Linked DNA regions of Homo sapiens: regions 1, 3 and 4 are each linked to region 2. Evidence: fine-mapped expression QTL. A gene starts in region 2. Each other region holds a variant in brackets. All regions are shown on one strand. Distances are from middle to middle. Region 1 overlaps LINC02367 (long intergenic non-protein coding RNA 2367). Region 2 holds the start of LINC02367 (long intergenic non-protein coding RNA 2367). Region 3 overlaps LOC642846 (DEAD/H (Asp-Glu-Ala-Asp/His) box polypeptide 11-like). Region 4 holds the start of LOC124902873 (a long non-coding RNA gene).

Region 1 (5,488 bases), 26 kb before region 2:
GAAACCAGCAGAAGCCAGGAGAGAGCCATGGAGTTGATCTGCCTCACAGCCTCTAGTTGGAACTCATCCCGTCAATACCTTGATTTTGCACTTGTAGCCTTCTCAACTGACAGAATAAACTCCTGTTGTTTAAAACCAGCCAGGTGTGGCATGTTTTCACGAGAGCCCTAGGAACCCAATACATCGACTTTCAAGGGCCGCATCCCACTGACTTCGAAGCAGGCCTGGATCCGTGTGTTGTCTCAGTTCTGGGAGCTCCCATGAGCCTGCAGAGAGACTGCAGGGTCTTCCTGGACAGTTCCTGAGGAGGAAAGAGAGACTCAGAGGATTGCCCCGATGTCGCCCCTCCCTCCTCCTAAACTCTGCTGGGCTCTCCCACTCCCCCAGGAAGACTTCCCTGCTAACTTCTGCCCTGCAAGTTGACCCTGACATTTTCAAGTGCCACCCGCCCCTGTGAACTTGAATGGATTGCGCTGTTCTTTGCACAAGAACAGAAACAGCTGCCTGGAGTGCAGCTTGTCCTAGTGGCTGGGACTTCCCTGACACACAGCTCCCCTTATCTGTTGTGGAGCGGTCTCACTGACATCTGAGCAAGCAACTGGAAGAAGCTTCAGCCCCAGTTCTAAAGGTTCACAGTGACTGACAGCTGGGGTTGAGACAGACCCGCCTTCTGTAGGTGGACTTTGGCGCTGGCCTTAGTTATCCTTTTATAGACATTACCTTTGGAGGGGGCACAATTTTCACCCTCCTGCCCTGCCACACCAGAGTATTTTTTATTCTTTGTATCCAGTTATTTCTTGGTGTTTCTTGGTGAATTGAATGGAAGATATGCTTTTTCCTAAGCATGGCTATGGCACAAGAGGCTTTCCGAAGCAGCTGCTCAGGTGGCTCAGCCTGGAAACTGGGGCAGGCTGTGAGGGAGCGTCTTCCTGAGCCCTCAGTATGTCATCCACGAGGGACAGGATGGGCTCTGGGGACTTGTTCTTCGCCCCTTCCAGAGCTGAAACCAGAATGAGACTACCTGTGTCTCCAAAAAATAAAAAAAATTATCTGGGCTTGGCAGCATGCACCGGTAGTCCTAGCTACTTGGGAGGCTGAGGCAGGAGGACTGTTTGTGTGTGCCCAGGAGTTTGAGGATACAATGAGCCATGATCGCACTTAAGCCTGGGTGACAGAGAAGGAACCTGTCTCTTAAAAAAAAAAAGAAGAAAAAGGAAAAGAAATCACCTTGTTTGTGAATAGAGACAATTTCTTTCTTTCTAATCTTACTACCTTTATTTTGTGTCATTTTCTTCCCTTATTGTATTGGCTAGGACTTCCAGTACCATGTTGGATAGGAGTGATGAGAGTAAACATCCTTGCCTGGTTCTCAATCTTATGGGGAAGGCAATCAGTTTTTCATCACTAAGTAAGATGTTTGCTGTAGGCTTTTTGAAGGTGCGATACATCAGGTTAAGAAGCTTGCTTCTATTCCTAGTTTGCAGAAAATCTGTAATAGGAAAATATGTTGAATTCTGTAAATTTTTTTTCTATATCAATTGATGTGATCATGTTGATTTTCTTGTTAGATTATTACTATGGCAGATTACATTGACTGATCTTCAAGTATTGAAGCAGTCTTGCATTCCCAGGAAGAACCCACTTGGTTATGGTATATTCCAAGGACTACATAAACACGTGCACAAACACACACACACACACACACACACACATTCCAGAAGTAGCACAAGTTCAAAATACAAAACTCATTTAATTTGTATATACTAACAATAACTAACAGAAAATCAACATTTTAAAATAATTGCATTTGTACTATCTCTGAAAAAATGAAATGATTGAGTCTATATAAGATCTGTATGCTGAAAATGTACAAAATGCTGTAAACAAAATCACAGAAGACCTAAATCAATGAAGAAATACATGGATCCATGGGTAGAAATACTTAATAAAGACTTCAATTCTTCCCAAATTGATCTATACTTTTAATACAACTCCATCGAAATCCCACCATAGGATATGTTGTATATCAGGTAATCTGATTTTAAAAGACATGTAAAGATTAAAAGGTAGAAAAAAGAATGATGTCAGAAAAGCGATGCTACACAATTTTAAAGTTCTGCTCCAATGCTGAAGTAATCAAGACAGTGTGATTCCAGCAAAGGGATAGACACAGAGATCAATGGGACAGACTGTATCCAGGAATAGATCCACACTGACATGGAAAATTGATTTCTAACAAAGCTGCAAAGACAACTCAATAGAGAAAGGAGAATCTTTCAACAAATGCTACTGAAACAATTGAACTTTCATAAGCAAAAAATTGAACCTCAACCTAAAGCTCCTACCTTTATATAAACATTAATTCAAACGGAGCACAGATTTAAATAAAAAATGTAACACTATGAAACTTTTAGAAGAAACCATAGGAGAAATATTCAAGACTAAGTTGTTAGACATGACACCAATATAACAATTTGTAGAAGAAAATACTGACAAAATGAACTTCCTCAATATGTAGGACTTTTGCTCTGTGAAGGATCTTATTAAGAGGATGAAAAGACATGCTACAGGCTGAGTGAAAACACCTGCAAACCATATAGCTGACAAAGGACTTGTATGTAGAATCTATGAAGAACCTTCAAAATTCAACACATTTTTTTTAAAAAAACAATCCGGTGTAAAAGTGGGCAAAAGACATGAAAAGACATTTTGTCAAAGAAAGAACATGAACAGCAAATAAGCACAAGTGAATATGATCAGCATCAGTAACCATTAGAGAAATGCAAATTAAAACAATGAAGTATCGCTATGTCTGTTAGAAAGGATAAGCTCAATGATGACACCAAATCCTGGCAAGATTGCTTAGAAACCAGACAACTCACACATCACTGGCATCACTTGAACAAGGTATAGCCACTCTGGAAAAGAGTTTGGCAGTTTCTTATAAAACCAAAGGTACATGTCCTATGTGACTCAGCAATTTCACTCTTCAGGATTTAACCTGAAGAATGAAAGCAGGTTCACAAAAACCTGTACATCAATGTTCTTAAAAGTTTTATTCAAAATAGCCTCAAACTGGAAACCACCCAAATATCTTTCAATGGTGAAAGACTCAACAAATTCTACCATATCCATATAAGAGACTACTACCCAGGAATAAAAAGCAAGAAATTATTGATACAGGCAAAAACTTGGAGGTTTTGTTAGAGCGTGAAACTTGGTGAAAAAA[G/AG]CCAATCTTTTGTTGAAGATTGGCTTTTGGCTTTTGTTGACGAAAGAAAAAACTTCCTCTTATGAAAAAAGCCAATCTTCTAAAAGGTTTTACACTTACAAGCTTCCATGTATAAAACATTCTCCTGTTGTGGGATAATTTAGGAATCAGAGAGACCGAGGGGTTGAGGAGGATTTATTATTATTATTTAGGTGCATTGGCCCAGTCAGATTAACATCCAAAGGACTGAGCCCCGAACAAAGAGTCAAGTTACCTTTTAAGCATTTCATGGGTGGGGGAAGATTTGTGCAGGGGGAAGCATATTACAGAAGCGAGAAACAAAGACAGTTATTCAATTGAGACTTGCATTACATTATTTCTTACTTTTCAAGGAAAAACATATTTTACAACTTGAGTTTATCTGTCTAGTGACCTTGGAGCTGCACAGCTAGAGAAACAGGGTCTTCATAATGCCTGGGAAAGGGAGAGATAAGGCTCACTAGCCACAGAAAAACAGGCAGTTAATTTTTAAAGGACTCCAGCTCTTTCTCTTCCTCAGGGGGAATTGGGTTTTCTTACATACAACTGAGTTTTTGCTTACACATTCTTTAATTTCTTTTAATTCCTGTTCCACTCCAACTAACAAAACTATAGAGATGGAGGACAGATTGGTGGTTGCCAGGAGACAGGGACAAGGTACGAGGATGTGACTAAAAAGAGGTAGCACAAGTGAATTCCTCTCAGTGATGAAACAGTTCTTTGGCAAGGACAGTTGGTGCAAGTGGTTACAGGATACTACACATGAGATCACCTTGCATAGAACACACACACACAAAGGAGTGCATGCAAACACTGTGAAAACTGCATAAGGTCTGTAGTCTAACAATAGTCAGACAATGCCCATGCCCTGGTTTTGATGGTGTCCTGCTGTTCTGTAAGATAGCTGTTCTGTTAGGGAAAGCCGGGTAAAGCATCCAAGGGACTCTGTCTACTACTTTTGTGACTCTCTGTGAATCTACAATCATTTCAAAATAAAAACTTTAAAGAAAATCAACCAAGTGATTTTTATATAATAAACGTCAGGTTAATCCTCACCTTGGGAGGGAATAGAGACTAGGGAGCATCGCAATGGTGGATTCTGGAGTGCTGGCAGTGTCCTTTTTTGTTTTTCTAACCTAGATGATGATGACATAGATACTCCTTTGTGACAAGTCATTGAGGTGTACGTATTGTTTCATAAACTTATGTGTGTTAAACTATCGAAAAGAATTAAGTTAAAAGAAGAACTTTAAGGTAAATACAGCATTTTACATAAAAGAAACATGGAGCTGTATTTTTGTTAATGGGTCCAAAACAGAAAAACAGAGATTGATTTAAACAACTCTCTAGATAGGTTTCACAGCAGACTAGGCACAGCTGAAGAGTGAATGAGTGAATTGGAAGACAGAGTGACCAATTTACAGCACAGATATGTAGAAAGATGAGCAAAGTAAAATAGAGTTTTACTCCAATATGTGCTTAAGGGGAATTAAAAAAAAATTGAGTAGTTGGGCAAGAGGTAATCATTGAAGTGACAATGGCTGAGAATTTTTCAGAATTAAAAAAGATAACCCTTGGGTTGAAAAGGCACATCAAGTCTTTTACAGGATTAAAAATACATATTTATTTATTAGATAGTAGATAAACCCCTAGACACATTGGGATAAAAGAAAAAATTTAAAAAATGAGGAAACACCAAAAGGTTAAAAGAAAAAAGAAAGATTTGCTGCAAAGAAAAGATTGCCAAGCCAACAGCAGACATCTCATCAGCAACAGTAGATGAGACAATGGAATAATAACTTCCACGTTTTGAGGGAAAATAACAATGAGCCTAAATCATCAGCAGCAGTAGATGAGACAATGGAATAATAACTTCCACGTTTTGAGGGACAATAACAATGAGCCTAAAAATTTATCCCCAGCTACCCCAGTATTCACGAGTGAGGTTATTTAAAATAATTTTATAAAATGTGGCTATTTTATAAATGCAGTTATTTAAAATAATTTTATAAAATGATATTTGATGATGGGGAAATGCTCACACTACATTAAGTTAAAAAAGACAAGGAAATGGATAATGGGTATAAAAATACAGTTAGAAGGATTATGACCTAGTGTTCAGTAGCACAATAGGGTGATTGTACTTAATAATTTATTGTATATTTCAAAATAACTGAAAGAGTGGAATTGGAATGTTCCTAATACAAAGAAATGATCAATGCTTCAGGTGATGGGCATCCC
Region 2 (5,213 bases):
GGGAATTATTTTCAATGCCTTTTATCCTTTTTTAGTGTGATTCTTTTTCTCAAATTTCTAATAATAATTTTTTAAGAGCTAATATTTTTGAATGTCAATTAGTGTGATAAGCTCTGCATATATGATTGCTACAGTGCTATTAGGTAGGAGCAATCATCACCTCTATAAGGAAAGATACTAAGACACCGATAATTCAAATAACTTATCAACAGTAATGGAGCTTGTTGATGAAAGAACCGGGATTTAGACCTAGGCTGTTCGGCTTCAGAGCTACTCTCCTAATCAATAACTCTCTTGCACTTTACATAAACAGTTAAAAATATTAATATTTGCCATATTTGTTAAACATTTTGTTTAGTTGATTACATGAAAATTACTTGCCTTTGAGTATTTTCAGCAGACTATTAGAGATACATTGGGTAAAGGGCCGTCTAATGAACATGCAAGGGGAGTTCTTAAGGATGCCCCAGAGATTCTTGGAAACCAGTTTTCAGCCTTTTTTTTTTTTTGGTAGTATTTAACATCTTCTTTGGATTCCAGCAAAGTGATCCTAAAATTTTTCTCAGTTTCAATGAAGAGCAGTTGAACTTGTGCCAGAATTCAATTTATGTAATAGATGAAAGATTGTAGATTATCCATGTTAAAAATGATGGGATAATCAGAACAGCTTGGACAAATCCAGGATCCTAAACAGGCTTCACTAGAAAACTCTACACAAAGCCAGAACTTGCAATGGCATTAATATCTCATTTATTTATCTGCACAGTAGTATGCTAAAAAAAACTACAACACATTGTTTGGGAGAGCAAAACTGTTTCTCAAGCATGGCCTTTGAAAAAGACTTGCTAACCAAATGCTTACATGGAACTGATGGTTCCTTAGCACTACGTCAGGTTATAATCCATGATCCTGATTTCTTGAAACTTCTTTAATATATTCTGGGTAGACTTACATTAAAAAGTAAATTAGTATCAGTAATAATAATATCCTGCCAGGCTGCCAGGCAGCTAGACTGGAACTATGCTTGCTACAAAGTTATTTCCAGACAGACTGTGAGCACACTGTGCCTAGAAGTTCACATCAATTTTATAATACTGTGTCTCAAATTGTATGATACTGTGTCTGTGCATTGCTTCTTTAGTACTTCCTGGGATTTAGCTTGGAATGGCTAGAGAAAATGAGCAAATTAGATTATTTTAGTAAACAAACTCAGAGATGAATTAGGCTTTTAAGAGAGGAAAAACACTTACAGGTGAAGGTATTTTAACAAATCGCTTTAGCATCCATGGAAAGCTTTCAAATCACAAACAAAGGGAGAATACTTATCCTATCCCATAGAGATTTAAGCTACATGTCTCATGGGCATATATTAGCCTGCCAATAATACTAGGGTGCGAGTTTGATTGTATACATGAGAAACATTAAAAAGAAATAATAAGAAATGTTTAGGCATAACATTTGTGGCTGAATCTTAGTCTGGCTTCTATATGATCATCAGACGTGACAGATGATTTCAGTGATATGAGTTGAGACAGAATCTCAAATGTGTTATGAAATTTTTAATAGAAAGAGAAAAAGATGAGTGGGAAGGAAAAAGCACAGACTGTGGAGTGAGGCAGATCTGAGTCTGAATTTTAGTTTCATCAATTACAATGTGGAAAAGTGAGTTGCTTGACCTTGAACATTTTACAGATTGAGAAATTGAGGTTTAGAGATTAATTTGCCCAAAGTCTCATAGCTAGCGAGTAAGAAGCTAGAGGTTTCAAACTGGGGACTTTCTGATGTCAGAGCTCAAGCTTGTCACCACCGTGCTCCTGGGGAAACGGTCAGGAGAAAGCCAAGTTTCCAGGAAACTGGAATGGCCGCAGTGAAGAATGACCCTCTTATATCCTGCTGATTAGATGACCAGACTTGGTCATCACAGACTTTGAGCATCACAGTGGAAGAGGGGCCAGAAGAGGAGGGCAGTTTCCTGTGTTGCTCCGGAGTTGCCTCATGTTGCCCACATTTTTCTGGGGCTGACATATATTTTTCCAGTAGGTGTGACCTGAGGGTGTTGGGGCTTTACTTTTGTGCTGGTGCAGGCAGTTTTCAGGCTCATATAAACACTCACTCGGCTGTTTATTTATTCATTCAACAAGCATTTCTTAGACACCTCCTCTTCTAATTCTTGGGCCAGTAAATAAGTATGGTCCCTGACCCAACAAATCTAGCTCAGGTTCAGAGATGCACAACCTCATTCCAGCAAAGCTTTCTGTAGATTATCGGGGGCAGCTCTTACTACCCTTGATCTTTCCCACTTCTCAGCTATTCCTGTACCAACAGAAAGCTCTCCCATGGAGGAATGGCAAAGAGATGGAAAAATGCGGCTGTGAATTGGGCTGAAGTTTTGGGGAAGGATGTGGAAGCCAGAGACTAACAAGAAGTTTTGATAGTGGGTGTGATGTCCCTCCCCCTCCCTGCTGTTCCATTTCCTTGGGCACTTAGGCTGGTCTCATGATCTAAGGGCCAACTGCTCATGTGAAAATCCATCCCAGCATCCTCAGCTCAAATAACTGCTGCTTGCCACACGCCTGCCCCAACGGAATTAACGGAAGCTGCTGATAGCCCTGCTGACCTCATTGGATGGAACCGTGTCCTCAGCAGACAGGAGCTCCTTCCTCTTCTGAGTGAGACTCCCTCCTATCTTGGAGCAGGAAGTCCTCTCAGGAGAAGTCCAAGCTTCAGACAGAGAAGGAGCAGGTGCCATTCATTTACTCCCCTCAGTGTTGACCCAAAAGGCAGAGGCTGAGACGCAAAGCATAATTTAAAGAGTTTACTTGAGCCAAAGTGAGGACAGCTGCCTGGAAGACTCAGACCCAAGTACTCTTGGCTGTGAGCTTCCTAGAGCCTTTGTTCCAAGCAGGTTTTTAAAAACAAAAGACTGGGACCGAGAGAGTGGGCTGGTACAAAGTTGTTGATCAGGAACTCTCTTTGGATTACAGAAACAAAATTGATGAGCAATTGGTTATTGTTAAGTTATAGGATGTGGTTTATGCTTCTGGTGAGACACTATAATAATCCTAAATTAAAATTAATTCATAGCTACTTGTGGCAATAGCAAGCAGTTTTAAGAGATGAATACATAGCTCAAAGCGGGGAGTAGGGTGTGATTGCTCTCATTTTAACGTCTCTCCAGGCCTCATAGTTTAAAAAGGATTCACCTTCCTCAGATGAAAGCTCTTTAGGTTTTGCATCAGGAACCTCCTTTTCTGCTTTCTTGGAGGGTCAGGATGGGTCCCATGAAGAGCTGCTGGTGGGGACAGACAGAAGCCAAGGAGAGGCCGGGCAAGGAAGCTGAAGTGCTTGGCAGGGGGCAACAGTCCCCTGCCTGCAACCAACGTTAAAAAACACTGTCACTTCAGGCCGAAAGTGGTAGAAACCAGTTTGTTAAATCACACGAATGTATATATTAGGCATGCCTGGCTAGTCCTTTGCCAAGAGATCTTGTAGCATAACTGCAGGCAAATAGAAAAGACATGAAAATCGTTAATCACTGCACAAGCTTAGGGATCAGTTCTTTTTGGAGGGTGGTGAGTGGTGGAGGTACTGGAAAATGTGTACAGAAAGAGTGAAATAAGTGGAAGAAAGGCCCTAGGACTCAGGGTTTGCTTACAGTGGGATCAGAGACACCTGGAAGGATGAAGACAAAAATCCAGATTATAATTGGCCCTGGGAGTGAGACTTCATGACAATTGTGTTACCTTGAGAATTTCTTTTTAGTTCCTGGCTTCAGATTTAAGGTTATGGTTGATGGATGAATATACTTTTGGAATCTACTTTTGGAAGACCTTCTCTGGGCTGAAGTTGATAGCTAGGTTAAAATATCAAGGACTTCGGTAAATCTCTAGCAGAGCTTCACTACAGCAGAGAGGGAAAAACACCAGATTTAACATTTCATTCTTGGTGCTGCTGAGCTGTGTGCTCTAGGACAAGACATTTAACTTTTTCAGCTGCGTCCTAGAAGGATTCACACCTATCTCCCAAGACTTTGGCAATGATTAGGAGGGAGAATAACTAGGAAAAAGATAAGTGAACTGTGAAGAGCTGTGACCTTACAATGGTGACGGTGACGGTGATGATCTTTATACTCTTGGGAGGGTTGGTGCAGATTCTTGCCTGCAGCAATCATAAGCAGAGGCTAATGCTTCCATCTTTAAGATTCTCATAGTAAGGTTAAAAGATACTGATATTACCTAATGTTTAACATAACTGGACCCACTACCTACTGCTTCATGCACAGAAGTTACAGGGCTGAGGGACCCTCCATTAGCCACACTGAGGATCTGGGTTATAAATGAGTGGAATGTGTAAGGGGAGAAGAGATCTTTAGCGATCTTTGAGAGCAATATTAGCAGTGAAATGAATGCAAACCACATCTTGCCTCTTTGAAGTAATAAAGGAAGGGAAAAAAGTTATGCAAGCAAAGAAGTGCTTTTGTTTCCCCAGCCATGAATCCTGGTTAAAAATTGCACACAAACCACAAGGACAGTCAATACCATCATCTCAACTCCTAATGTGCTGTGTTTCAGGAAAAAAAAAAAAAAAAAACTAAACTAAAATTAAAGCAGTATCACACTGTCTTTGACTTGCTAGCTTTATATTCTTTTGTGAAAATCTCAAGACGTTACCCATCTTCAGAGGTAGCTCATTCCTCCCAGGCATGGAGCCGGGGAGGGTAAATGAAATGTCTCATACAACTCAGTCATTCATTTGCTCAGTGTTTATTAAGACCTAACATGTGCCAGGCTCTCTCCTAGGTGGGGCTAACTAAAGTAAGCCCAAGAGGTACTGTCCTTAAGGGGAGGAAAGACACGTACTCCAGTATCTGTATTTGGGTAAAGAAAGTGATTTGTCAAGAGAGAACAGGATTGGGATTGTTTAAAGTATGTTCACAGCCCACAGACCAAATGGACTCCCTATGACTCACTGAGGTACTCATATTTAAAACAGAAACCCAGTGGCTACAGCCGGGTGTGGGAGCGATCACATACTCTGTGTTCTCAGAAAGATATAAGAGCATCACAGGACCCCTCTTTTCACAATCAAGCCAAACCAGCGCCTGCTGTTGCTCCCAGGACAAACTGCTGCTGGGCCCCTCCCACCACCAGCCAGCCACAGTCTGACAGAGACTCCCAGTTTAGGGCTTGGAAACCAATCAATCAGAGCTCATC
Region 3 (5,217 bases), 64 kb after region 2:
CCTCTACTGCCCCTGCCCACAACGCAGTGTCCTCCTCAGGGGGGAGACCCTCTTTCCAAATGTCTCTCCCAAGTCTAAGAGTGCCCAGTAAAATCTAGGTCCCCTTGGCTTTCCTTCCAGGTGACAGAGAGTTAAAACAAAGGAACTTCTATGAGCAAAGCCACAGAGGAGATGATGGCTGGGACCTGCTCAGGGGCTGGGGCAGTGCCACTCAGTCGGTGCATCCAATGTGTGTGGTTTGGTGCCACATCTTAGCTTGGGATGCAGAGATGAGGAGTTTGGAGGCTTTAAACCGGTTTCTAAAAAGAGCGACGTCCTTCGATGAGGATTCCCTCAATGGTGGGTGATGAGACCCGAGACCCATGGGAAGAAGGGAGAAGGAAAGCAAGGAGGGCAAAGGGAAGGCGAGAGAAGGAGTGCCTGCACCCATGTCCCAGCTGTGGGAGAAGCGCGGGGACGGCAGGACTGTCTGAGGCTGTCAGGCCTGGCGGCTGTCACAGGCATGTGGGAGACAAGGGGAGAAAGGCATCAAGGATGACGTGGATCCAGCCTGTCTGGCAGGGATGGTGGCAGTGACAGTGACCCAAATGTGTAATTCAGGGGAAAAGCTGGTTTTAAGAAAAAAAAGGCAGGCACGATGGGAAGAATGTGGGGCCCCAAGTCAGTGCAGCCAGGTTTGGACGCTGTCTCTGCCACTTGCTATTGGCTCACTTGTGGGAAGCCTGTGCTCGCCACCCTCCTGAAGTCACCTCCATGGGCCTGTTTGCTTTCCTTGCCGGGGCAAAAGGATATCCTAGCTCAGAGCACAGCACGTGGCATGCCGCCTAGAACAGAGGCAGAACCCTGTACCCAGGGGCAGTCACTGTTGCTGATTTGAGTTACGAGCTGGGGGTTCAGGCGGCAGTGGCCGTGTTTCATCTGGGGAGCGCTGGGTACACAGACCTGGAGCGAGCAGAGGTCTGAGGCTGCAACCACACCCAAGGCCCAAGTGCGAAGACGTGACAGGGGTTGCACAGAACAAATCAACGTCCTATTCCTGTCCATAAGCCTGAGGGAGACTGTGCCAGAAGATGGGGTGAGACAGCAAGGACCTGGAGTCTCTATCTGTTCTATGGGGCACCAAGAAAGGTCCCTTTCTCACCCATCCCTCATCCCTGTGGCCTTCACTCTAAAAGATGATGACTTTTGTCTCACAGGCGTGTTGCGTTAAGGGTTAAGTAATTACACGTCTGTTTTGCTTTTTCTTCCTTCTATAGTCTTAACATAGTACTCTACCCACAGGTGGTGACAGGAAGGAAACTGGATGTGGAACATGGCAAGGTGGAAACCTCTACCTTGAACAGGTTGATGTTGTCGATCTGGCTCTGGAAGAGAAAGTCGTTGATGGTCTTCAGCTCCGTCCCTGAGAACAAACACATGAAGGGCCTTGGGAGCTTCACCCTAAGCCTCAGGTTTCAGTCCCAGGGTTAAGCTCGGAAGTGGCTCAGATCAGCTCTGGGCCCTCTGAGGGCAACTCTCTTACCTGTCTGTGACAGACTCTGTGTATTGGGATTTTGCTTAATGTTCCCTAAAAAAGAGAATGGAAATAGGTCACAATGGTGGTTCTCAGGCCCCCCAACCCTTCCCTATCTTCTCTCCCTCCACACTGCACATCAAGTAAGAAGAGCATCTGTATTTGAACGGCTTTGTTTTGCTTTTCACTGTTTATAGCATGCAACGGACCCACTTAGAGGGCAGGTGGGTCCAGGAGCCTCCCACGTCTGACTCACGTGCTTGCACGTGGAACCCAAAGCCCTGTAAGTTCATGTTTTTCACCCCTTCTCCAGGAGGCCGGGACACAGCAGCCAGACCAAGGTATGCAGGGCACCGGAGCACAGAGGAGCTGCCCAGGCCACTGGTGAGCCTGAGGCAAAGCAGAGCTGGC[G/A]GCTCAGAGCAGCAACACGAGACCAGCTCCCGCCAGGAGCTCCCACAGGCTTTCTGCAGCTTCCACTTCCACAGACACCTTCCAGCAAGGGGGTGCCCCATCATAAAAGAAGGGGACGTGACAGGGTCACGCAAAGAGGCGTGGGAGCTGGAGTCAGAAGATCCCAGGCTCCCGTGCTGGGAGCAGCCCTTGCTCCGAGCTCTAGTTTATGCGTCTATCAACAAGGATTCAAATACCAGCACTGCGTTCTCACAGGGCACACAAAACCGCATATGCAAGTGCTTCGAACAACCCACAGAACTATGCCTATCACGGAAACACCGTGTGTCCATGTGATGCTGTATCCTTAATATCCCCCCAGAGCAGCGCCTGAAATAAAAAGTCCTCAGAACATGGGCAAAGAACCCATGGGTCTAAAAAAAGCTCAAGTCAGACAACTCAACTAAGCTACAAAGAACAAGAATTTTCTAAATCAATGACCAAGACCCTTCTTTTTTTTTGGTTCTTTTTTTTTTTTTTGAGACTGACTCTCACTCTGTCGCCCAGACTGGACTGCAGTGGCACAATCTCGGCTCACTGCAACCTCCGCCTCCCGGGTTTGAGCAAGCAATTCTCTTGTCTCAGCTTCTGGAGCAGCTGGGACTACAGGCCACGGCAACACTCCCAGCTAATTTTTTTGTATTTTTAGTAGAGATGGGATTTCATCATGTTGACCAGGCTGGTCTCAAAACTCCTGACCTCAGGTGAACCACCTGCCTCGGCCTCCCAAGGGCTGGGATTACAGGTGTGAGCCACCACACCCGGCCGACCCTTCTTAAAAACACAGAGAACTGAGGCGTCCTGATGGGCATCCAAGGAAAAAGCAGCCCGGTGGGTTTTGCAGGCCGGGGGTTAGCCGGGGGGCGAGGCTCTCACCCCCTAGCACAGCCACGAATTTCTCCAGCAAATACAGGATCTGCTTCAGGTACATCAGGTTCTTGGCCTTCAAACGCTTCCTGAGAAGAAGCCAACGGACATTAAGTGGTGGTGCCCTGATGGCGACTCGCCCCGCCCACCCCAGTGGAAGCCTTGCTGCCCGGTGCCTCTCAAACTGGGTCACAAGCTACAAATCCTTTCCCAGAGAGCAGGCTGGCCACGGCCCCAGGCCTCAGAGCCAGCGGTCAGTCCCCAGCCTTCCAGGTCTGTGTGCAGCACACACCATCATGTGCCTAGGACATGAATGGCATGCAGCTCCACCCCGCCACAGCACGGGCCAGAGGTGGGAACCAAAGTGCTGCCTCTCAGAGGCCCATGCAGGGGGCCACCAAGGGACTGTCCCACTACCTCAGAGAGTCACATCTCACCCGTATCGCTCCATGTACTGCAGCAGCTGGGAATGGGCCTGGCAGAGCTGGGGAAAGAACACAAACCAGGCTCTGAGCAAGCAGCCGAGGGCTAAGGTACTGACATCTTAGATTCACCTAGAAGATGCTAGCCCTGGACACACAGGAAGCCACCAAAGGGAGGAGAGGGGGCTGGGTGCAGACAAAAGGTACTGGTTTCCACAGCCCTTAGGCTGGTGGGAGCTAAGAGAAAAGGGAAGGAAGGGAAGGTTTCCTCCAGTGTCCACTGTGGGTCAGAGAAAAAGCAAGAGGCTGAATTCCTCAAGTATGGAATCTGCCTGCTAGTTTCCACCGGGTTGGGAAAAGACCTGGAGTCTACAAAGAGTGATGGTTCAAGGTCACCATCACATCCCAGCCTCAATTCAGCCCAGGCACAGGTCAGTAGAGCTGGTGGGATGTCGTGGGGGTTTCACAGTCAGAAACCAGTGGGCACACCCCAGCTCCACACTCATGAGCTGCATGACCTCAGGACAGAGCTTGACCATCTTTGAATCTCCAAGTTTCCAATGTAAAACAGGAACACCACCCCCATGGCAGAGTCAGCGTGAAGACCAGAGACACCTGGTGCCATGCATGGCGCATGATAGGGCAGCAGGAGGAGCCTGCACTGATCTTGAGCATTCCTCAATTCAGTCCCCTCCAGACAACTTCAGTAATGACAAAATCCAATCCTGAGGGGACTTCTGCCTCACACATGCCATCTCCCTGGCTTGCAGAACTGGCTGCTGGCATCCAGGGCTGGAGGGACTCAGGAGCATGGGGGCAGGTGAGGTGCAGGGAAATGAGGCACTCTGTCATAGCGGGGTCCCCAGAGTTCTGGGATGCACTGGAAAGCCATGGTCAGCCTCCGATGAGGTCACCGCCTTGACTCGTGCACCCTGTAGCAAGCCCCACCTCCGGAGGAATTCTTGGCCCGGGTGTCTGGAGGAACCATCCAAGTCCCTTTACCTCACGGCAGGCCCTGGCCTGGGGAGGGGAGGCCCACGCACCTGGGAGCCGCTGACCTCCACGCTGTGCATGCCCGTGATGGTGTCGATCAGGTTGTGCGCCTCGTCGATGATCACCACCTGGTCCTGCAGCCGGATGCCGGCGGCCTGCCGAGTGGCCGCATGCAGCAGCATCTGATAGGGCAGCACCACCAGCTGGGAGGGGAGATGAGGCCACCTGAGCAGGGCGGGGCTCCCCTGCAGGAGGCTTGCCTGCCTGACACTGAGCTCCTGATGTGAGTGCTTCTATTTCCTGCCTGGACTGTGTAGAGACGTTCAAAAAACAGCTTCTGACAACGGACAAGCTCTCCTCGAGTTTCACATGAAAAGCCAATACATGAAACACAGGAAACTAGGGCTGGTCTGACTCCTGAGTAAACCAAGGGCAGGGCTGGGTGAAGGGAACCCCTGCTTAGCCTTGTCCATGTCCTCAAGGTCGCCCCGGAGGCCCCCGAGTTTCCACAAAACACCTGAAGACCATCGGTGCACCAGGAAGCGGCCCCAGCTTCTGCTCCTGGAGCTGCTACTTCCCAGCTGTGTGACTCTGGAAGAGTTGTCTAACCTCTCTGACCCTTGCTTTCCTCATCTGCAAAATAGGGTTGATACATCCTATTTCAAAGTGAGGGTTAAGGCGTGGAGCTGGGGTAACAAAAATAAAAGCAACTCTGCAGGTCTTTAGGTGTTTGTTGTTAGGAAAGTTTCCAGTTAAAGGAATACTCATATAAAAAATAAAATATCGGAAAACTGAATGGCTCCATCACCCACGCTTGGTGAGAAAATATGAGTCACTTAACTTTTCTGGGCTCCAGTGTCCCCATGCACGGAATTTCACTGGAATACTATTAACATAAAAGCAAAATATGGTCAAAGTACTTTACAAATTCAAAAATCGTAAAGATTTTGGGCCATATTATGGTATTTGTGT
Region 4 (5,488 bases), 60 kb before region 2:
GACAGAGTGCCTCATTTCCCTGCACCTCACCTGCCCCCATGCTCCTGAGTCCCTCCAGCCCTGGATGCCAGCAGCCAGTTCTGCAAGCCAGGGAGATGGCATGTGTGAGGCAGAAGTCCCCTCAGGATTGGATTTTGTCATTACTGAAGTTGTCTGGAGGGGACTGAATTGAGGAATGCTCAAGATCAGTGCAGGCTCCTCCTGCTGCCCTATCATGCGCCATGCATGGCACCAGGTGTCTCTGGTCTTCACGCTGACTCTGCCATGGGGGTGGTGTTCCTGTTTTACATTGGAAACGTGGAGATTCAGAGATGGTCAAGCTCTGTCCTGAGGTCATGCAGCTCATGAGTGTGGAGCTGGGGTGTGCCCACTGGTTTCTGACTGTGAAACCCCCACGACATCCCACCAGCTCTACTGACCTGTGCCTGGGCTGAATTGAGGCTGGGATGTGATGGTGACCTTGAACCATCACTCTTTGTAGACTCTAGGTCTTTTCCCAACCCGGTGGAAACTAGCAGGGAGATTCCATACTTGAGGAATTCAGCCTCTTGCTTTTTCTCTGACCCACAGTGGACACTGGAGGAAACCTTCCCTTCCTTCCCTTTTCTCTTAGCTCCCACCAGCCTAAGGGCTGTGGAAACCAGTACCTTTTGTCTGCACCCAGCCCCCTCTCCTCCCTTTGGTGGCTTCCTGTGTGTCCAGGGCTAGCGTCTTCTAGGTGAATCTAAGATGTCAGTACCTTAGCCCTCGGCTGCTTGCTCAGAGCCTGGTTTGTGTTCTTTCCCCAGCTCTGCCAGGCCCATTCCCAGCTGCTGCAGTACATGGAGCGATACGGGTGAGATGTGACTCTCTGAGGTAGTGGGACAGTCCCTTGGTGGCCCCCTGCATGGGCCTCTGAGAGGCAGCACTTTGGTTCCCACCTCTGGCCCGGGCTGTGGCGGGGTGGAGCTGCATGCCATTCATGTCCTAGGCACATCATGGTGTGTGCTGCACACAGACCTGGAAGGCTGGGGACTGACCGCTGGCTCTGAGGCCTGGGGCCGTGGCCAGCCTGCTCTCTGGGAAAGGATTTGTAGCTTGTGACCCAGTTTGAGAGGCACCGGGCAGCAAGGCTTCCACTGGGGTGGGCGGGGCGAGTCGCCATCAGGGCACCACCACTTAATGTCCGTTGGCTTCTTCTCAGGAAGCGTTTGAAGGCCAAGAACCTGATGTACCTGAAGCAGATCCTGTATTTGCTGGAGAAATTCGTGGCTGTGCTAGGGGGTGAGAGCCTCGTCCCCCCGGCTGACCCCCGGCCTGCAAAACCCGCCGGGCTGCTTTTTCCTTGGATGCCCATCAGGACGCCTCAGTTCTCTGTGTTTTTAAGAAGGGTCGGCCAGGTGTGGTGGCTCACGCCTGTAATCCCAGCCCTTGGGAGGCCGAGGCAGGTGGTTCACCTGAGGTCAGGAGTTTTGAGACCAGCCTGGTCAACATGATGAAATCCCATCTCTACTAAAAATACAAAAAAATTAGCTGGGAGTGTTGCCGTGGCCTGTAGTCCCAGCTGCTCCAGAAGCTGAGACAAGAGAATTGCTTGCTCAAACCCGGGAGGCAGAGGTTGCAGTGAGCCGAGATTGTGCCACTGCAGTCCAGTCTGGGCGACAGAGTAAGAGTCAGTCTCAAAAAAAAAAAAAAAAAAAAGAAGGGTCTTGGTCATTGATTTAGAAAATTCTTGTTCTTTGTAGCTTAGTTGAGTTGTCTGACTTGAGCTTTTTTTAGACCCATGGGTTCTTTGCCCATGTTCTGAGGACTTTTTATTTCAGGCGCTGCTCTGGGGGGATATTAAGGATACAGCATCACATGGACACACGGTGTTTCCGTGATAGGCATAGTTCTGTGGGTTGTTCGAAGCACTTGCATATGCGGTTTTGTGTGCCCTGTGAGAACGCAGTGCTGGTATTTGAATCCTTGTTGATAGACGCATAAACTAGAGCTCGGAGCAAGGGCTGCTCCCAGCACGGGAGCCTGGGATCTTCTGACTCCAGCTCCCACGCCTCTTTGCATGACCCTGTCACATCCCCTTCTTTTATGATGGGGCACCCCCTTGTTGGAAAGTGTCTGTGGAAGTGGAAGCTGCAGAAAGCCTGTGGGAGCTCCTGGCGGGAGCTGGTCTCGTGTTGCTGCTCTGAGCCGCCAGCTCTGCTTTGCCTCAGGCTCACCAGTGGCCTGGGCAGCTCCTCTGTGCTCCGGTGCCCTGCATACCTTGGTCTGGCTGCTGTGTCCCGGCCTCCTGGAGAAGGGGTGAAAAACATAAACTTTACAGGGCTTTGGGTTCCACGTGCAAGCACGTGAGTCAGACGTGGGAGGCTCCTGGACCCACCTGCCCTCTAAGTGGGTCCGTTGCATACTATAAACAGTGAAAAGCAAAACAAAGCCGTTCAAATACAGATGCTCTTCTTACTTGATGTGCAGTGTGGAGGGAGAGAAGATAGGGAAGGGTTGGGGGGCCTGAGAACCACCATTGTGACCTATTTCCATTCTCTTTTTTAGGGAACATTAAGCAAAATCCCAATACACAGAGTCTGTCACAGACAGGTAAGAGAGTTGCCCTCAGAGGGCCCAGAGCTGATCTGAGCCACTTCCGAGCTTAACCCTGGGACTGAAACCTGAGGCTTAGGGTGAAGCTCCCAAGGCCCTTCATGTGTTTGTTCTCAGGGATGGAGCTGAAGACTATCAACGACTTTCTCTTCCAGAGCCAGATCGACAACATCAACCTGTTCAAGGTAGAGGTTTCCACCTTTCCACATTCCACATCCAATTTCCTTCCTGTCACCACCTGTGGGTAGAGTACTATGTTAAGACTATAGAAGGAAGAAAAAGCAAAACAGATGTGTAATTACTTAACCCTTAACGCAACACGCCTGTGAGACAAAAGTCATC[T/G]TCTTTTAGAGTGAAGGCCACAGGGATGAGGGATGGGTGAGAAAGGGACCTTTCTTGGTGCCCCATAGAACAGATAGAGACTCCAGGTCCTTGCTGTGTCACTCCATCTTCTGGCACAGTCTCCCTCAGGCTTATGGACAGGAATAGGATGTTGATTTGTTCTGTGCAACCCCTGTCACGTCTTCCCACTTGGGCCTTGGGTCTGGTTGCAGCCTCAGACCTCTGCTCGCTCCAGGTCTGTGTACCCAGCGCTCCCCAGATGAAACACGGCCACTGCCGCCTGAACCCCCAGCTCGTAACTCAAATCAGCAACAGTGACTGCCCCTGGGTACAGGGTTCTGCCTCTGTTCTAGGCGCCATGCCACGTGCTGTGCTCTGAGCTAGGATATCCTTTTGCCCCGGCAAGGAAAGCAAACAGGCCCATGGAGGTGACTTCAGGAGGGTGGCGAGCATAGGCTTCCCACAAGTGAGCCAATAGCAAGTGGCAGAGACAGCGTCCAAACCTGGCTGCACTGACTTGGGGCCCCACATTCTTCCCATCCTGCCTGCCTTTTTTTTCTTAAAACCAGCTTTTCCCCTGAATTACACATTTGGGTCACTGTCACTGCCACCATCCCTGCCAGACAGGCTGGATCCAGGTCATCCTTGATGCCTTTCTCCCCTTGTCTCCCACATGCCTGTGACAGCCGCCAGGCCTGACAGCCTCAGACAGTCCTGCCGTCCCCGCGCTTCTCCCACAGCTGGGACATGGGTGCAGGCACTCCTTCTCTCGCCTTCCCTTTGCCCTCCTTGCTTTCCTTCTCCCCTCTTCTTCCCATGGGTCTCGGGTCTCATCACTCACCATTGAGGGAATCCTCATCGAAGGACATCGCTCTTTTTAGAAACCGGTTTAAAGGCTCCAAACTCCTCATCTCTGCATCCCAAGCTAAGATCTGGCACCAAACCACACACATTGGATGCTCCGACTGAGTGGCACTGCCCCAGCCCCTGAGCAGGTCCCAGCCATCATCTCCTCTGTGGCTTTGCTCATAGAAGTTCCTTTGTTTTAACTCTGTCACCTGGAAGGAAAGCCAAGGGGACCTAGATTGTACTGAGCACTCTTAGACTTGAGAGAGACATTTGGAAAGAGGGTCTCCCCCCTGAGGAGGACACTGCGTTGTGGGCAGGGGCAGTAGAGGAGGGGGTGGCCTCGGAGAGGGGATGACAAGGTTGGTGGCAAGGAGGCTCCAGGTGCCTCAGAAGGTAGCACTGCGTTGTGCTGCCTGGGTGGTAGAAGTGGTGTTTTTTGTTTTGTGTTTAAGATTACAGCTTGCTCAGTTTGCACACATGCCTACAGCTGGGCTTGGTTTTTGCAGGTGCAGCGATACTGTGAGAAGAGCATGATCAGCAGAAAGGTAACTGCTCCCATCTTGTGGTCCTGAACAAGACCCAGCTGTGCCCCAACCCCCTGCCGTTGCCATGCTTTCCTCCCCTGCCCTCAGGAAACTCCAGAGTCCCCTTCATCTCCACCCTCCTTGGTGCAGTGGGCCTTGCTGAGGTGGTGGGATGCGTGCTGCAGGTGTCTTGGGCCTGGCAGAGCCTCCGATCCACCCAGCCTCTCTCTCATGGCTGTTCCTCGTTCCTCTCCACTGCTCTCTCTCATCCCACCCAGCTCTTTGGCTTCACTGAACGGTACGGAGCAGTGTTCTCATCCCGGGAGCAGCCCAAACTGGCTGGGTTTCAGCAATTCCTGCAGAGCCTGCAGCCCAGGACGACTGAAGGTGAGGCAGGAGGGTGAGCAGGCAGAGCCGGCTGCACGCATGGGCAAGGACTTCTGTTCCTCATGTGTGGACCTGACAAGAGGGAGGCCTCCTCCCCATTCTGCTCTGTGCAGCTCTTGCAGCCCCTGCAGACGAGAGTCAGGCCAGCGTCCCGCAACCAGCTTCCCCACTGATGCACATCGAAGGCTTCCTGGCAGCTCTCACTACGGCCAACCAGGACGGCAGGGTCATCCTGAGCCGCCAAGGTAATCAGGTGGTTCTTGGCCAGGTTCAGTTCCCAGGAAGGAGCCAAGCTGAGCCCGGGAGCCGCAGCATGAAAGGATTCTTTCCTTCCATCCTGGGAACTCCCTGGGTTAGGAGGAAGCAGTGCAGTGGGCACTGGCCTGCTGTGACCTGGGCAAGCAGTGGAGGTGGACGGGAGGAGATCGAGGGGCTGGGATGGAGGTCCTCTAGGGCAGGGGTCCTAGGGAAACTTGTATTGTGGGGTAGGTGGGCTTTGGTTTGGGTCATGATTTTGTCATCTATGAGCCTTGTGATTTGGACTATTTTCTTTCTCAACTTCAGTTTCCTCATATGAAAATGGAGAGGATAGGCCGGGCGCGGTGGCTCACGCCTGTAATCCCAGCACGTTGGGAGGCTGAGGGGGGCGGATCGTGAGGTCAGGAGATCGAGACCATCCTGGCTAACACAGTGAAACCCCGTCTCTACTAAAAATACAAAAAATTAGCAGGGTGTGGTGGTGGGTGCCTGTAGTCCCAGCTACTCGGGAGGCTGAGGCAGGAAAATTGCTTGAACCCAGGAGGTGGAGG

What was found. PIP is the estimated chance that this variant, and not a neighbour inherited with it, causes the effect. A credible set is the group of variants that fine-mapping cannot tell apart.
Region 1: its variant is the best candidate, but not a certain one, in a credible set for the expression of LINC02367 in lung (TOPMed, PIP 0.81).
Region 3: its variant is the best candidate, but not a certain one, in a credible set for the expression of LINC02367 in visceral fat (GTEx, PIP 0.59).
Region 4: its variant is the best candidate, but not a certain one, in a credible set for the expression of LINC02367 in ileum (GTEx, PIP 0.69).

Annotation. Positions count from the first base shown.
Region 1 is chr12:9,390,532-9,396,019 of GRCh38, reverse strand. It overlaps LINC02367 (long intergenic non-protein coding RNA 2367), which reads right to left. Exons shown (of 4, transcript NR_120479.1): 3 at 1,363-1,489; 4 at 1-301. Among named protein-coding and RNA genes, the nearest start is that of LINC02367, 26 kb to the right of the region's middle. The variant G/AG (reference allele first, on the strand shown) is at 3,230.
Region 2 is chr12:9,364,765-9,369,977 of GRCh38, reverse strand. It overlaps LINC02367 (long intergenic non-protein coding RNA 2367), which reads right to left and starts at 2,514. Exons shown (of 4, transcript NR_120479.1): 1 at 382-2,514. RefSeq lists an enhancer at 4,973-5,213.
Region 3 is chr12:9,300,325-9,305,541 of GRCh38, reverse strand. It overlaps LOC642846 (DEAD/H (Asp-Glu-Ala-Asp/His) box polypeptide 11-like), which reads right to left. Exons shown (of 22, transcript NR_024374.1): 10 at 4,296-4,448; 11 at 3,268-3,314; 12 at 2,840-2,919; 13 at 1,523-1,567; 14 at 1,335-1,402. Among named protein-coding and RNA genes, the nearest start is that of LINC00987, 63 kb to the right of the region's middle. The variant G/A (reference allele first, on the strand shown) is at 1,925.
Region 4 is chr12:9,424,907-9,430,394 of GRCh38, reverse strand. It overlaps LOC124902873 (a long non-coding RNA gene), which reads right to left and starts at 4,004. Exons shown (of 2, transcript XR_007063206.1): 1 at 3,761-4,004; 2 at 1-2,815. It also overlaps the pseudogene DDX12P. The variant T/G (reference allele first, on the strand shown) is at 2,920.